2 separate regions of the Homo sapiens genome follow, and region 1 is linked to region 2. The links come from fine-mapping of genetic effects on plasma protein levels. Region 2 holds a variant in brackets. A gene starts in the other region. All regions are shown on their forward strands.

Region 1 (5,375 bases), not on the chromosome of region 2:
TCAAGTGCGTCAGGTGACGCGCAAGCGCCTCACGTGACCATAAGGGGGCGTGGCTCTGAGCGGTGCCCGGCTTCCGGGTGGCTGCGCGGAAGCGCGGTGCAGGCGTGGGCTGGCCCTGCGGCGCCTGCGCGCTAAAAAGAGGAAGTTTGAGGCCGGCCGCTTGGTGGCGCCTGTGGCCGCAGGGATTTGACTGGGCCTTCTCTAGCTTTCCCCGGTTTGCTGCACTTGACGCTGCAGGGCGGGCGGGGTAAAGAAGGGAGCGAGCCCTTCTCAAGCTTGGAAAGTTTCCAGACTGCTGGGCCAGCCTCCTCCCCAGAGGGAAACTGAGGTCCGATTGAGGTAGGAGAATAGGGTCTGGAGGCGGGGAACTTGAGGCCAATACGTGCTGAATTCTGAAGCTGAATCAAGGGAAAACACCAAGGTCTGGGGGCAGGGAACCGGAGGCCAACTAAGGCGAGCTTACTAAAGCTAAACCAAAAAGAAAAACCCCATCTCCCCATGTCCAAGTAACAAAGGATCAAAGGCCACTGTCCCCACAACCCTCCCCCTTCCACCACGTCTCAGTTGAAAGGGAGAGTGCCTTGGATTGGCTGCGGGCCAAGCACGGGCCATCCCTTCATCTGCATAGGGCGCCAATTCACCTTAGCCCCATTTATGCCTTGTGTTCCATTATTGGAACGCTAAGCATATGGGAGTTATTTATATCCTACTGCTCAAGGTCATGGCCAAGGTCTGATTGCAAAAATTCAAAAAGATTGCAACCTCAGGCATAAATGGATTAATTAGCCATGGACCAAACCCTTCATCCAGATAAGGGGTAACGGACAGGGACCGCAAAAGGAGTACTTAAAACCCGGAAAACTTTGTAACTGAGCCCCTTCAGCCTCTTGCTCAGGCCCACTCCCACCCTGCGTAGTGCTTTCTCGCTTTAACAAATCCCAGCTGTCTGCTTCCTTCCTGTGTGTCATTCGTTTGTTACTTTCTGGGTTTTGTTCAATTCTTTGTTCGAAACGCTAAGGACCTGAACAACGCACACTCCTGGCCTTCCCTCTGGTAACAGGATGAGGGGCAGGCTTTGCGTGGAAGTAGCAGCAAGCCCTGGAGCCTAAGGCTTATTTGTTAGCCAGGAGTGATAGCCCCTGTGCCACGCTGCGTCCTGCGTTCCCCGCACTTGCTGTACAAGATTTTCGAAAGCTGGAGTGCGGCTCTTCTCTATTTTTCCCAGGGGCACCAGGACCCCTAAAAGCGCCCGTGTATGTGCCTCCTATGATAGGGTAGCCCAGGCCCTGGGATAAGAGTATGTGTGGTTTCTTGGCTTGGTGACACTCCCACCCCCTCCATGAACCCTCCCTCCTTTGACGGCCACGTTTGAAATAACCACAGCCTTGGGGTTGGTCCCATCCTTTATTCGAGTTTCCTTGCCCCTACCCTAGCCCCGACCCTGACGTTGGCCAGCTAGGTGCGGCTGCAGGGATTCATGGCAGTACCCAGCTTGCGGCAGTAGCAGAAGGCATTGAAGAAGCGGCAGTAGCACGTGGCACATGGGTCACAGCAAGGCACCTGCTGTCCCAGGCAGGACTCATGCAGCCTTACGCAGCGACGTGAGGAGCGGGGCTCGCGGTCCTGCAGGTCTAGTACCTGCAGGGGTGGGGAACCAGCACAGGCCTCTAAAGACAGATCCAGGGATCTTACCTGTCCCAACCTGTGCAGGATGGCAGTGGAGCATGGGAAGGGGTGGTCGGTAGTGTCGTCGCTGGTGAGGGAGTTTGGAGCTGGGGAGAGGAGCTAATACCCAATGCCCCCTCCCAAGGGCCACCACCTTACCCTTTTCCCTGAGCAGTTACCTCTGCCAAGGCCTGAGCCTCCTGCAACAGATCCTCTTCTGCCTGTTCTGCAGTTGTCTTCTTCAGTGGGGCCCGCAGGCCCAGGCCTGGGGCAGAGGATGTGAGGGCAGGAACCCCCATGCACAAAGCACCCACCTCCCAGGGGAGGGTTTGGGAAGGGAGAAAGAGGGTTTATGCCAGGGGAGACTATTTGTGGCCAGAGGGTATTCAGGCCCCGCCCAGTCCCACCCTTGCTCACACTGACCTGGGAGCTCTGGGAGCAGGGCCTGGTCAGGCCTTCTGATGCCCTCCATGGGGGCCAAGCCCATCTGGGCTCCTCGCGTGGCAGGCAGTGCCAGCAGCAGGGCACAGCTCAGCACCGCTGCGGTCAGCATGGCCTGGCTCAGCAGGAAGATGTACCACTTAGTCCCTCCTTATCCTTGGAGTCCCCTCTAGGTGCCCAGATAGAGACCCCACAGAGAGGAGGAGTCCCTGCCCAACCTGAGGACTCACCTCTGCCTCCGGGATTCTTGCCTAGAGAGTTCCCGGCCACCCCGTGCCCTTGGCTTATATGGCAGGGCCTAATGAAGGGCCACACGTGACTGATCCCTGCAGCCAGGCCGTGAAGGACCCTTCCTGGAGGGTGGGGGCACAGTTCAGGCCCTCACTCCCTGAACCTGAGCCTTTTGTTCTACAAGAGGAGTGCCTATCTCCAATTTGGGGTGAGGTTTCCAGGAGCCGATTAAAATTTGGGAGCAAGAGAGGGTGCCCAGGGTCCACAAATTTCCACAGGACAGGGACCTAGGAGCTGAGCAGGGCTAGAACCATTAGCAATAACAAGGCAGGCGGCCCTGAAAGCTTAATTTAATTTGTGGCCCCAGAGATGCTTACTCAACCCCTATGTGGCATGTTGTTTCCTGTGCTTCCAAGAATTCGGGTCAAGGACATTGGAGCGGGTGATGGGCCAATGGCCACTGTTGGGCAGGGGTAGGTGCAGAACCAGAACCTGGGTTTCTTTGGAGGGAAAGGGGAAGGAAAAGCCCACCTAACCAATCCTAGGCCCTCCTGACTACATTTCTGGTCCTCCCCTCCCTTTCTCCCTCCAGGTTTCTCCAAGACCGCCCACTCCTGCTCCTGTCCCCAAACCCCTTTCTGCCTAGGGTTCCTGGAAGCCAAGGAAACAGAACGAACTGTTCCCTGGGTGGGCGAGCCACTGCAGAGTACAAAGCTTTCAGGCCGCCTGCCTCATTAGCACTAATGGCTGCTCCCTTCCGCCCTGTGTCGTCAGGACTGTCTATGCCTGGTCTCATCAGCACAAGGCTGGGGTAAGGACTGCCCTTTTGTGGAGATGGCAGGACATACAGGACCCTGCTGCCCCTGCCTTCCCTCACCCCACTGCAGAGCTGTTTATCACACACGTGTCCATCTGGGAAAGGAATGCAGGCTGAATCAGCTTTGAGAGGATCGCAAGGCCCCAGTGCACAAACTGGGTTGGCACAAGGCAGTGGAAAAAAGATGAAGGGGGCCAGGTATGGTGGCTCACACCTGTAATTCCAGCATTTTGAGAGGCCAAGGTGGGAGGATCACAAGGCCAGGGGTTTAAGACCAGCCTGGGTATCATGGTGAGACCCCGTTGCTACAAAAAATAAAAAAATAGCTGGGTGTAGTGGTGCATGCCTGTAGTAGAGGCTGAGGTGGGAGGATGGCTTGAGCACAGGGATTCAAGAGTGCAGTGAGCTATGACTGCATCACCACACTCCAGGCTGAGCGACAGAGCAAGATCCTGTCTCAAAAAGAAAAGAAGATAAAGGGTGGCCAGGCACGGTGGCTCACGCCTGTAATCCCAGCATTTTGGGAGGCCAAGGTGGGCGGATCACTGGAGGTCAGGAGTTCAAACCAGCTTGGCCAATATGGTGAAACCCTATCTCTACTAAAAATACAAAAGTTATTCAGGCATGGTGGCACATGCCTGTAATCCCACCTACCCGGGAGGCTGAGGCAGGAGAATCACTTGTAACACGGGAGGCAGAGACTGCAGTGAGCAGAGATCGCACCACTGCACTCCAACCTGGGTGACAGAGTGAGACTCCATCTTAAAAAAAAAATGCTATTTAAAATGAAATGAAGCAATCCATACTCCCAACATTTATATATACTGGGACATCCAAGAAATTAAAATCACACCTCATTATGTCTTTTTCTTTGAGTCAGGGTCTCACTCTGTCACCCAGGCTGGGCCTGGTCAGCACCCATGCTATGGAGAGCTCTTCATGGTCTGGTGTGGACAGAGTGGGAGTGGAAGATCTCCTCCCACACAGGTGCTCAGTGTCTTACCTCACCTACGGGCAGCAGCTGTCTTCACCTGAGTGTGTGCACACAGGTGTATCAGCCCCATGGGCAGTGATGGACGAGGGCTGAGGCACTCACAGGGCAGCCCATGCCCCGGTCAGGTCCAGTGGGGGAGATATCAAGAAAACCCAGCGCCAAAATGCAATGAGCTGTGATCGCGCTACTGCACTCCAGCCTGGGCGACAAAGCAAGTTGCCGTCTCAAAAAACAAAAACAAAACTAAACAAAAAAAAAAAAACGGCCAGGTGTAGTGATTCACACCTTCTTGAGCCCAGGAGTGGCAACATAGTGAGACTCTGTCTCTACCAAAAAAAAAAAATTTAATTAGCTGAATGTGGTGATGCACACCTGTAGTCCCAGCTACTCAGGAGACAGGGAGGAGGATAGCTTCGGCCCAGGAGATTGAGGCTGCAGTGAGCCATGGTGGTGGTGGCTCACGCCTATAATCCCAGCACTTTGGGAGGCTGAGGCAGGCAGATCACTTGAGCCTAGGAATTCGAGGCCAGCCTGGGCAACATGGCGAAACCCAGTCCCCATTAAAAAAAAAAAAAAAAAAGGCCAGGTGCGGTGGCTCACGCCTGTAATCCCAGCACTTTGGGAGGCCGAGGTGGGCAGATCACAAGGTCAGGAGATGGAGACTATCCTGCCTAGCACAGCAAAACCCCATCTCTACTAAAAATACAAAAAAAAAAAAAATTTAGCCGGGCGTCATAGCGGGCACCTGTAATCACAGCTACTTGGGAGGCTGAGGCAGGAGAATGGTGTGAACCCAGGAGGCAGAGCTTGCGGTGAGCCGAGATCGCGCCACTGCACTCCAGCCTGGGTGACTGAGCGAGACTCTCTCAAAAAAAAAAAAAAAAGTTTCACAGCCGGATGCAGTGGCTCACGCCTGTAATCCCAGCATTTTGGGAGGCCAAGGTGGGCAGATCATGAGGTCAGGAGTTCAAGACCAGCCTGGCCAACATGGTGAAGCCCCATCTCTACTAAAAATACAAAAATTAGCTGGGCATGGTGGCACGCACCTATGATCCTAGATACTTGGGAGGCTGAGGCAGGAGATTTACTTGAACTGGGACCCAGGAGGCGGAGGTTGCAGTTAGCTGAGATCGTGCCACTGCACTCCAGCCTGGTAACACTCCAGCCTGGTAACAGAGTGAGACTCCATCTCAAAAAAAAAAAAGTTTCACTATGTGGGTAATTTTA
Region 2 (5,375 bases):
ATCACTTGAGTGTAGGAGTTTGAGATCAGCCTGGGTAACATGGCGAAACCTTGTCTCTGCAAAAAATACAAAAATTAGCCAGGCATGGTGGTACTCGCCTGTAGCCCCAGCTAATTGGGAGGCTGAGGTGGGAAGATGGCTTGAGCCCAGGAGGCCAAGCCTGCAGTGAGCCATGATGCACCACTGTACTCTAGCTTGGGCAACACAGTGAGACCCTGTCTGAAAAAAAAAAAAAAAATCAACCTGAGAGGATGGATATAAGAGATGCTGATGCCCCCACTCCATCCCAGAACCACTTAATCAGAATATCTGGGGTGGGGCATTTTATAAGCTACCCAGGTGTTGCCAGTGTATAACCAGGATTGGGGATATCTGGTCCAGGTGATACAGGAGGTTCCTTTTGGCTTGAGCTTGTTTGATTTCTAGGAAGTTCTTGGGGTATAGAGTTCACAGATGCTTCCAACACTGGGGCCACCATCCTCCTCCCTGCTGAGAATGATAAATTCCTGCCCAACCGTGGAGCCTATGATCTCAACTCTGGCTGTGCACTAGAATTTCCTAGGAAGCTTTTAAAAACCTTCCATGACTCAACCCCACCCAAAGCAAGTTAATACAATCTTTGCGGATGGTTCAGCCCTAGTTTGAAAAAGCTCCCCAGGTGATTCTAATGTGCAAAGTGGCGAACCACTGCTTTGAGAACAGCCAATGAGCCAAGAAAACAGACAGCCCTCCGCCTGGCCCCTTCCTTTTCCTCCTCAGAATGCTCATAGTCTGATGTGGGTTGTCGACTTCCTTACCCTGGACAGTGTGCTCTGAGTGAGGCACATGTTTAATGGCTAAGATCATGGACTCTGAAGCCAGGTGGGTTTCAGTTCCAACCCTATCATCTTATTAGCTGTGTAACTTAGGAAAAATCATGTAACCTTTCTAAGCTTCAGTTTCCCTATATGTAAAATGGGGACAGTATCCACCTCATGGAGCTGTGGGGATTGAATGGGTTCACGCACAGAAAGTCCACAGAACAAGGCTTGGTCCATGGTGAGTAGCAGCTATAATTTGAGAGAGGGTGTGCGTCTAGTTCATGTCCAGACCCCAATGTTAGAGTCTGATAGCTCCAACAATGATCTGGATTTAAGATTGGATTTAACAGGAACCTATGTGTAAAAGATAGATAGGCTCATGACCCATATTTCTAGATATCCTGCCTGACCTTATTTCCCATAAAGTTTGTTTGCTAATCCTGCAGTTATTAATCTTGGTTGTGGATCAGAATCACTGGGAGAACCTTTGAAAATGTAGATTACCAGCCCAATCCCCTCCCACTTCCCCATCCCAATCAAAATTCTTATTCAGCAGGGACGTGGGATTTGGACACGCTCCTCAAGTAACTTTAATGTTCAGCCAGGGCTGAGAAACACGGCATTCAATATATAACTTGGTATGAGCCTGTTGGTTCACCTTTGTCCACACATTCATGAATCGGAGGGAAGACCTTTGTTAGTCTGGGACTGTGGATTGTTGATTCAGAAAATATAACTTTACCAGATTATTTTCTATGCTGGGAAGTTTTCCATGGAGGCATTTATACTTTTTTGCCTTGCGGTAGCTTGAAAACTGTATTTTTTGGCAATTTCTATCAAGAGGCAGAGCCTGTTTCCTTCTTCTTGACCCTGTGCTGGTCTCGTGAGTTGCTCTGACCAGCAGGTTCTGTGGCTTTCAACTTTTTGGAAGGCTCTCCTGAGACCACTATGTAAGCGAAGCATTTAGCAGACTGGAGGATGAGAGACCATGTGGAGGAGAGCCAAGGTGACCAGCCAATAGCTAGCACTGGAGTCATGAGTGAGGCCATCTTTCACTTTCTGACCAAAGTCACTTGCACTGACCACCCAGCAAAGTACAGCCATGTGAGTGAGACCAGCCAAAATCAGCAGAAAAACTGTCTGGCCAACCAGCAGAATTGTGAGAAATAAGAAATAGTCATTTTAAGCGAGTATGTTTGGGTTTGTTACATAGTAATAGATACCAGAAATAGACCTTATCCACCCCTTTCAATTCCTGATCTGTATCAGCAGGAAAGGTAGCCAGAATAAGGGGTAAAATGGATGAAATGGAAAACACTAACTCTCTCAACCCCCTAGGGGTTGAACCTGTGTCCCAGCTTAGCCTAAGAAGCTACATAGCCCCAGATGCCCATGTGTGGATAACTGAGGCCAAGGTGATGCAGACCTCACCTGCCTGTTGGTCTTTGGAAGCCTCATTTTGTAGGTGACCCGAGGCTCCAACTGTCCTCAGCATCTTCTGTTTGCATTTGTGACAATATCCGTTCTGTGGCCCTTGGGTCTTGGGAAAACATGGCGCAATCATAAATGAGTTAAATGCTATCTGATCATAAGCCAGAGGGCCTGTTTTCATTTTCAAAACTCCGTGTGTCAGTGGCTGTAATGCAATGTCCAGCAATGTCTTGAGCAAGTGACCGGCAGGGGACAGAGGATGCTGTTTACTCAAGATAGCCCCATCACGCAAAAGCAGCTTGCCTAACCGGGTTTGTAAGCGATTGTTACGAGACCACCGTTGCAACAGGGATTGCCCTGGGTGATGGTCCCAGGAAGGGGCTGGTCCCCTCAGGCCAGATTTGGGGCTATCTCCCTCTTTCTGGAGCCCTCTGGGACCCTGGGCCTCTGGCAAAGAGCAGAGAAAAAGCATTGTTGGGAAATCCCACTCAGATGTGGAGTTGTCCTCCTAAGGAAGGGTGCCCTGGGGAGAAGGGCTTCATGCTACCCTGAGAGGAGACAGCCTCCTGTGTCAGAGGAGGCTGGAGGGGTGGCTAGGGACCTGCAGAGGCGGAGGATGGTGTGGTATGGTTGCTGAGCAAGAACATGGTGACTCGGGGTTTTGAAAGGCTTGGTCTGGGTAATGGTTCTGAGTTTGGGAGTGGTCATTGTTTCTCCAGCACCAAAATTATGGTGGGTGGGTGATCACATGCATATGGCTGACCCCTATGGGTATTTTCCTGAAGGTCAAACTATTAAATCCTTTATCCTTTCACCCCTTCCCTCTTGGCGAAGATCTGAGTTACAACCACCGTCACCACCACCACCACCACCA[CCACCAT/C]CACCATCACCATCATCACCACCACCATATCCACCTCTTTATCTGAACAGCTTCTTAAGATTTAAAAGCTCTTTCACATGGTTTCTCAATTAATCCTCACAACAACTCCAAGAGATAAGCATCACGACACCCATTTTATACCTGGTGAAATCGAGACTCAGAGACGTTAAATGTCTGACGCAAGACTCTTGGTCAGTGTGTCCCATAGAAATATAAAGTGGGCCAGAAATGAGAGCGGCATACATAATTTGACATTTTCTGGTAGTCATAATTAAAAAGTAAAATTAATTTCAATAATATATTTTAACCTAATAGATCAAAATTGTTATCATTTCAATATGCAATCAATGTAAAAATTATTGAACAATTTTACGTACTTTTTCATATAAAGTCTTTGAAGTCTGGGGTATATTTTGTACTTATAGTACATCTCAATCTGGACTAGTCAATTTTAAGTGCTCAGCAGCCATAGGTGGCTAGTGGCTGCTGTGTTGGAAGACACAATTCTAGATTTTTTTTTTATTATTATACTTTTAAGTTCTAGGGTACATGTGCACAAGGTGCAGGTTTGTTACTTATGTATACATGTGCCATGTTGGTGTGCTGCACCCATTAACTCATCATTTACATTAGGTATATCTCCTAATGCTATCCCTCCCCCCTCCCCCCACCCCACGACATGCCCTGGTGTGTAATGTTCCCCACCCTGTGTCCAAGTGTTCTCATTGTTCAGTTCCCACCTATGAGTGAGAACATGTGGTGTTTGGTTTTCTGTCCTTGTGATAGTTTGCTCAGAATGATGGTTTCCAGCTTCATCCATGTCCCTACAAAGGACATGAACTCATCCTTTTTTATGGCTGCATAGTATTCCATGGTGTATATGTGCCACATTTTCTTAATCCAGTCTATCATTGATGGACATTTGGGTTGGTTCCAAGTCTTTGCTATTGTGAATAGTGCCTCAATAAACATACATGTGCATGTGTCTTTATAGTAGCATGATTTATAATCCTTTGGGTATATACCCAGTAATGGGATCGCTGGGTCAAATGGTATTTCTAGTTCTAGATCCTTGAGGAATCACCACACTGTCTTCCACAATGGCTGAACTAGTTTACACTCCCACCAACGGTGTAAAAGCATTCCTACACAATTCTAGATATTTTTGTCCTTCCTCAAAGCTTCTCTGCTCTTCCATAATATGCATCATATTTTCTCCATTTCTAAAAGGGGGTGTTTGGGCCAAGGAGTTTCCAAGGTCTTTTTCAGTTCTAAGGTTTTCTGATTCCAGAGCAAAGCCAGAATTCTGCCCAGGCTCCGCTTAGCCCCATGACACAGAGGGTCCCAGACATATGGAGAAAGAACTGTGAAAACGTCTTCACACTAGAAGTTTGTGTTTCTTTTCCTATGGTCTACAGGGGCAAACAGAGACAGATACACAGACATGGACAGGAGGACTCCTAGGCTCCCAGATACAGTTGCATGACCCACAGGAACAAAGACACAGACACAGCGCCCAGGGGAGTGTTCTGAGCATGTTCTTTGTGTTCTTGCATGTGTAACCCTGATGTTGAGGGGAGTCGTCCTGCCCCTTAAGGGCCAGATGAAGTTGCCACAGACACCCCAAACCCCAACTCCAATCCATCTCCTCCATTTGTTTCTTTTATATGTAGATATGCACGTGTGTGTGTGCACACAAGTCACCCTCTATGTGTGGATATTGGGTCACTGCAGAAGAAGTGTTTCTGGTCCGGGCACGGTGGCTCACGCCTGCAATCCCAGTACTTTGAGAGGCCCAGGTGGGTGGGTCACGAGGTCAGGAGATCGAGACCATCCTGGCTAACACGGTGAAACCCGTCTCTACTAAAAATACAAAAAATTAGCCGGGCACGGTGGTGGGCGCCTGTAGTCCCAGCTACTCGGGAGGCTGAGGCAGAAGAATGGTGTGGACCTGGGAGGCAGAGCTTGCAGTGAACTGAGATAGCACCATTGTACTCCAGCTCAGGCGACAGAGTGAGACTCCGTCTCAAAGAAGAAAAAAAAAAAAAAAAGTGTTTCTGACCATGGGCTGTTGTTAAGCAAAGTTTGACTGTCCCAGCTCAAGAGACCTCATGGCCTCTGGCCAGCCACCTCTGTGACTGTCTCCTCAGCCACTTTGATACTGCCTCCATTTCTCCAACTGTCAAATGATGTTTTTGTTCCTCACAGCCAATCTCGCAAATCCTGCATTTCTCTCTCTCTCTCTTTTTTTTTTTTTTTTTTGA

Alleles and levels. Alleles are on the strand shown, and positions count from the first base shown. The strength of an association depends on the size of the effect and on how common the allele is.
As copies of CCACCAT replace C in region 2, the plasma level of the protein whose gene starts at base 2,367 in region 1 goes up (weak association).

Evidence for each region. PIP is the posterior inclusion probability: the model's chance that the variant is causal. Protein levels are from antibody-based Olink assays in UK Biobank. Linkage for the fine-mapping came from a reference panel and not from the study's own genotypes, which makes the PIPs less certain.
Region 1: it holds the start of AGRP, and the variant in region 2 is fine-mapped to the plasma level of the AGRP protein (UK Biobank, PIP 0.99).

The regions. Positions count from the first base shown.
Region 1 is chr16:67,481,181-67,486,555 of GRCh38, forward strand. It overlaps AGRP (agouti related neuropeptide), which reads right to left and starts at 2,367. Exons shown (of 4, transcript NM_001138.2): 1 at 2,337-2,367; 2 at 2,089-2,221; 3 at 1,845-1,930; 4 at 1,391-1,638. The coding sequence starts at 2,218. The coding sequence ends at 1,456. It overlaps ATP6V0D1-DT (ATP6V0D1 divergent transcript), which reads left to right and starts at 214. Exons shown (of 4, transcript NR_184227.1): 1 at 214-339; 2 at 2,930-3,148. RefSeq lists a silencer at 88-257.
Region 2 is chr8:125,489,036-125,494,410 of GRCh38, forward strand. All of the region lies in intron 2 of TRIB1AL (TRIB1 associated lncRNA), which reads left to right. Among named protein-coding and RNA genes, the nearest start is that of TRIB1AL, 25 kb to the left of the region's middle. The variant CCACCAT/C (reference allele first, on the strand shown) is at 3,106.